2 separate regions of the Homo sapiens genome follow, and region 2 is linked to region 1. Evidence: fine-mapped expression QTL. A gene starts in region 1. The other region holds a variant in brackets. All regions are shown on one strand. Distances are from middle to middle. Region 1 holds the start of ARMH1 (armadillo like helical domain containing 1). Region 2 holds the start of RNU5F-1 (RNA, U5F small nuclear 1).

The links. PIP is the estimated chance that this variant, and not a neighbour inherited with it, causes the effect.
Region 2: its variant is fine-mapped to the expression of ARMH1 in whole blood (TOPMed, PIP above 0.99).

Annotation. Positions count from the first base shown.
Region 1 is chr1:44,673,585-44,676,489 of GRCh38, reverse strand. It overlaps ARMH1 (armadillo like helical domain containing 1), which reads right to left and starts at 1,776. Exons shown (of 12, transcript NM_001145636.2): 1 at 1,617-1,776. TMEM53 (transmembrane protein 53) reads left to right here and starts at 2,009. Exons shown (of 3, transcript NM_024587.4): 1 at 2,009-2,159. The coding sequence starts at 2,099. RefSeq lists silencers at 1,837-1,886, 1,957-2,006, 2,157-2,296 and an enhancer at 2,064-2,565.
Region 2 is chr1:44,720,139-44,723,043 of GRCh38, reverse strand. All of the region lies in intron 6 of ARMH1 (armadillo like helical domain containing 1), which reads right to left. It overlaps RNU5F-1 (RNA, U5F small nuclear 1), which reads left to right and starts at 1,142; the gene lies at 1,142-1,259. It overlaps LOC105378690 (a long non-coding RNA gene), which reads left to right. Exons shown (of 5, transcript XR_007066059.1): 2 at 1,005-1,085. The variant C/T (reference allele first, on the strand shown) is at 1,266.

The DNA of each region.
Region 1 (2,905 bases):
GACCCTCAAACTTGGGTGTTTCTCAGGGCTCTGTCCTAGGTCTCTTCTGACTCTACACTTACTCCCTGGGCAAGCTCAACAAATCTATTGGTGTGGCTGGCATCTATAAGGCCCCATAGACTCCCACACTGCAACTTCCAGTTAGACTTATCTGGCGAACTCCAGTTAGGCATATCCAATGGCCTTCTGGATACCTCCACTTGGATGTTCCATTGGCACCCCAAGCTCACCGTGCCCAGAACTGACCCTCTCCTAAAAACCCCTGCTTCCTCTCCTTCCTGTTTGCCCAAACCAGGAATCTAGAAGTCATCCTTCATTTCCCTTACTTCCCCCACACCCAATTAGTAACCAAGTCCATTTTTTTCTAGCTATAAGTGTCTAAGGAATTCATCCTGCCCTTTCCATTTCAGCTGCCACTCCATGCTTTGTGCCACCATAATCCTTCCCCACTACTGAAACAACCTCCTAACTGGTCTCCCTCCTTCTCCCAATCCTCAATCCAGTTCCTGCACTAATGTTTCTTTTTTTTTGAGACAGAGTCGCGCTCTGTCACCCAGGCTGGAGTGCAGTGGAGCAATCTCGGCTCACTGCCACCTCTACCTCCCAGGTTCAAGCCATTCTCCTGCCTCAGCCTCCCAAGTAGCTGGGATTACAGGTGTGCACCACCATGCCCGGCTAATTTTTGTATTTTTAGTAGAGATGGGGTTTCGCCATGTTGGCCAGGCTGGTCTCGAACTCCTGACCTGAAGTGATACGCCCGCCTCAGCCTCCCAAAGTGCTGGGATTACAGGGGTGAGACACCACACTGGGCTCTTTGTTTTGTTTTTTGAGACAGGGTCTCACTCTGTCACCCAGGCTGGAGTGCAGTGGCACAATCATGGCTTACTGCAGCTTTGACCTCCTGACTCAAGTGATCCTCCCACCTCAGCTTTCCAAGTAGCTGGGACTTCAGGCATGCGCTACCATGCCTGGCTAATTTTTAAAATTTTAATTTTGTAGAGATGAAGGTCTCACTATGTTGCCCAGGCTGGTCTTGAACTCCTTCAAGCCATTCTCCCGTCTTGGCCTTCCAAAGTGCTGGGATTACGAGTTTGAGCCACCGCGCCTGGCATGCAAAGAGTCTTTCCCCCTCCCTATCTCTAAAAGTCTTTCAAGGCCCAGCTCAAGAGCCAACCCCACTGCCATAAATGCCCCTTCTCTGATTCTGAGCTCCTCAAATCCTTACTCTTCTGTAGTATTTATCTCACACGCAGAATCAGAGTTGCTTCATGCATGGTTTCTCTCCCTCTCCCGTTAAGACATGGGAGAGGGAGGGCCAAAAGCTTGATTCTCACTAGGGCCTAAGGAACCTTATTTAGCCCACCCAGTCTCTGGCACATAGTATGTAAATATGCTGGCACATAGTATGTAAATATAGATAAATGCAAGAAAGTTGCACTCCCAGCTCCTCGGTGGGCCCTATCAACAGGGCATTCTCTAAAGTCATCAACTGAAGACTGCTTCCCATCCACCCATCCATCCATCCATCCATCCATCCATCCAGAATATGCCTCAACCCCACTGGGTGGAGGTTGGGTCGGCACGCGCCCCCTAGGCCGTTTTGTACGGTTTTATACCTCCAGCCCTCGCAGTTGCGGCTGGTAGAGGATGGCAGAGGTAGGTAGACGATGCAAGTCAAAGGGCACACTCTTCCGCCGCGTAGGATAGGACTCTGTTCGGACGAGTGACCCTGCCCATTCCCAGAATACAGCAACTCTTCAGCCGCCTCTCACCTACATGAGAGGGTGGGGACTCTTCCTGACCGGCGCCCCGGCTGACCAATACCTGATCCAGATCAAGCGAATTAGCCAATGGCTGCGGGTCAGTAATAGGGGCGGGGCATGGTTGCTAGGGCCGAGCTAGTGGGGTGAGGCGAGAGGCTCTGGAAGAGACTCGGTGGTTGCTAAGGCGGGAGGTCACAGAGCGCGGCGCAGGGATTGGGCCGTGTTGGGGGAGGTGTGTGGTGATTGGGCGGCGCCCAGGAGGCGCCCGGGTGAGGCACGGGTGCGCAAGCGGGAGTTCCGGCTGGAGACCCGTGCTCTGGGCCGGCGCCTTCACCATGGCCTCGGCAGAGCTGGACTACACCATCGAGATCCCGGATCAGCCCTGCTGGAGCCAGAGTATGGAATGAGGGTTGGGTCCAGGCGCGGGGAGGTGACCTCATGAACCTGTGGGTTGCGAGCGCAGCTGTAGCCCCGCCCCTCATGCGGCCCCGCCCTCCCTCGGGCCGCCCCCTCATAGGGTCTGGCAGGTCCTAGACTTAGAGAGGCTCAGAGAGCCCCGCCCCTCGTAAGTCCCGCCCCAGAGTGTTCCTCCCTGGCGAGCCCCGCCTCTGCCCGAGTCAGCTGCTCGCTTGGGACCTCTTTTTCTGTCTTTCCTGTCCGGGGTGCTCAGGTCCATGCCCTTTAATCACTTCTCATAGCTGAAGGCTGCCGAAAGCTGGATCCCTCCTGATTCCTTTGTTTGGGATTGGGCTTCCCACATCTAGCCTATCACTTATTATTTTCCCGAAGGCGTGGAGGGGGAGGCTCGCGGGGTCACCGATCCTCGCAGAAGCCCGGGACTCAGAACCCTTAGCCGTCCCTCTCCACTCTTCTCGGCAGTGGTTAACAGTGCAGTCTCTGCCGTCGGGTAGAACTCGACTGAAATCCTGACTCCTTCCTTTAGGAGCTGGATTACCTTTGGTAAGCTACCTTCTCTGAACTTCAGTTTCCTCCTCTGCAAAACCGGGATAAGGATAGTAACCTTCCTCATAGGGCTGTTGGGGCCATCTGGAGATTGTGTAAAGGGCCTGGCATGGAGTGAGTTCAGTAATTGGCATTTACGATCAGCATTGTTTCTCTCCTTACATTAAAGAAAGACATGT
Region 2 (2,905 bases), 47 kb before region 1:
GAGTGCAGTGGCGCGATCTCGGCTCACTGCAACCTCCGCCTCCTGGGTTCAAGCAATTCTCCTGCCTCAGCCTCCCGAGTAGGCTGGGATTACAGGCGCCCGCCACCACACCCGGCTAATTTTTTTTTTTTTTTTTTTTTGTATTTTTAGTAGAGATGGGGTTTCACCATCTTGGCCAGGCTGGTCTTGAACTTCTGACCTCGTGATCCACGCGCCTCGGCCTCCCAAAGTGCTGGGATAGCAGGCATGAGCCACTGGGCCCGGTGGGCCCAGCCAGTAAATGCTAGTATTTTTGTTTGTTTGTTTTTTTGAGACGGAGTTTCACTGTCATCACTCAGGCTGGAGTGCAATCGCTCACTGCAACCTCTGCCTCCCGGGTTCAAGCGATACTCCTGCCTCAGCCTCCTGGGAAGCTGGGATTACAGGCGTCTGCCACCACGCCCGGCTGATTTTTGTATTTAGTAGAGACAGGGTTTCACCATGTTGGCAAGGCTGGTCTTGAACTCCTGACCTCAGGCCTCCCAAAGTGCTCAGGCCTCCCAAAGTGCTCCCAAAGTGACCGAGAACTCCTGCCTCGGCCTCCCAAAGTGCTGGGATTACAGGCATGAGCCACCACGCCTGGACTTTTTTTTAAATTTAAATTTTATTTTTTTTCTGAGACAAGGTCTTACTCTGTCGTCCAGGCTGGTCTTGAACTCCTGGGCTCAAGCGATCCTCCTACCTCTGCCTCCTTAAGTGCAGGGATTACAGGTGTGAGTCACTGTGCACCGGGCACTGCTACTCTGAACACATGTGGCTACATGGAAGACAGGACTTGGCCATGTGCTCTCCCCAGCTCAGTAGTCAAGTGCCTCTCTCCATTTACTGGTAAGAGAGAGAGGGTTTAGAGGAACTCTTGTTCCGGCGCTCAGCTCATTTGCATCCCAGAATGCATTGTAGATACGAGAATTATTACCAGGGTTATCTGTTTGAATAATAATATTTAAACTTTTTTTCTTTGTCAGGAGATTTTACCCAGTGAGAACATGTTTAGGACACTTTTCTACAGTGGAAGAAAAGCTTCTGTCTGCAGGTCCAAAGGCACCGTAAGTAGAGGGAGACCAGTCAATAGCTGGGAAGCCAGGCAAAAGGCTAACAGGCAGATCTCTGGTTTCTCTTCATAACGAATAAATCTTTCGCCTTTTACTAAAGATTTCCGTGGAGAAAAACAACTATGAGTTTATGGTTAAATTTTTTGAAGTCTTGCCTAGGCAAGGCTGAATGTT[C/T]TGTTACTAAAGAGAGACGTGTGGGTGGGGTGTTTCATGCTTTGGGAGGTTGGGGTAGCTCCACAAATGTCACCCAGGTTGTAGCGGAGTGGTGTGGTCGCGGCTCACTACAACCTCCATCTCCCATGCTCAAGCAATCCTCCCACCTCAGCCTCATAAGCCTGTCTAATTTTGTGTACTTTTTGTAGTGCCCGGCCTACTGTCATGTTTTTTTAGCTTCTTGTAAACATTTAGGAAGCTAAATGTTTATAAGATTTTTTTTTTTAAAAGAAAACCTAGTTTTTGACAGTCTGTATCTAATAATTTGGCTGAAGTCTTGTGAGTCTTTCTAGTGTGCTAGTTCCAATTTATAGTGATGACTTTGTGTGCATGATTATCTTATACTTTGGACTGGTCTCATATTTGAAAAATTAAGTGTAGGAAAAACTTAAGAGTTAGGATGATGATACTTTCTTCCAGAGATAGTTTTCTTTTGTTTTTATCAGGTACCTGGGGACACAAACAATTCTGGACTACCTTTGTCCACATTCAACACTTGAGGTTCTCTGGACCACCTGGTAGTTATATAATCCATACAAGACCACCTGAGGGCCGGCTTACTTTTGGCCCACCTTGACCTTGAGGGTACTGTCTTCTGGGGTCCAACTTAAAGTATGTATGCTAGAGGTATCAGACTTCCCACCGAGAGCAGAATCTCAGTGCCTTCTCTTTCTTTTGCCCTTTTTTTGTTTTGTTTTGTTTTGAGATGGAGTTTCACTCTGTCACCCAGGCTGGAGTACAGTGGTACGATCTCGGCTCACTGCAGCTTCCACCTCCTGGGTTCAAGGGATTCTCCTGCCTCAGCCTCCCGAGTAGCTGGGATTACAGGTGCGCACCACCACGCCTGGCTAATTTTTGTATTTTTTAGTAGAGACAGGGTTTCACTATGTTGGCCAGGCTGGTCTTGAACTCCTGACCTCAAGTGATCCACCTGCCTTGGCCTCCGAAAGTGCTGGGATTACAGGTGTGAGCCACCACGCCCGGCCTGAGAAGTCTTCTTTATCTGGCTATTGCTACTCATTCTTCTAGGCTCAGCTGAGAAATCAACTTTCAGGAAGCTGCCCCTGGCCTGCTCTCCTCTGCCTTCACTCTTCACTCAGGAGTAGATGTCCTATGTCTCTGAACCCGTAGCACCGTATAGAATTCTTGCTATAGAATTCTAGTACTATCCACTAAATGGTCTCCTCACTAGTGTGTGAACTCCAATGAACATATCTGACACATCTCACTTCTGTTTACCTAGAGCCTGAAACCATTCCATGTACACAATGCATGCTCCATACATCTTGTTGAAAAGACCTCATTGGATTCTGCATTCCAACAGGCGAGGCTTGGGTCATGGCAGCCTAGGACCACGCTTAGAAACCACCAGCCTGGTGGTGGATGACCCCAGAGGAGGCTCTGCAGTGGCCACTGTGGTCCTCATTCACACAGCTACAGAACTTTCCTAGCTTGAATCTTGGACAGGCTGGAGAGCCAGAACTGTGGCAGCTGTCTCCCCGTATACCCCATGGCCAACTTTTTTTTTTTTTTTTTTTTTTTGAGACAGAGTTTTGCTCTTGTTGCCCAGGCTGGAGTGCAATGGCACGATCTTGGCTCAC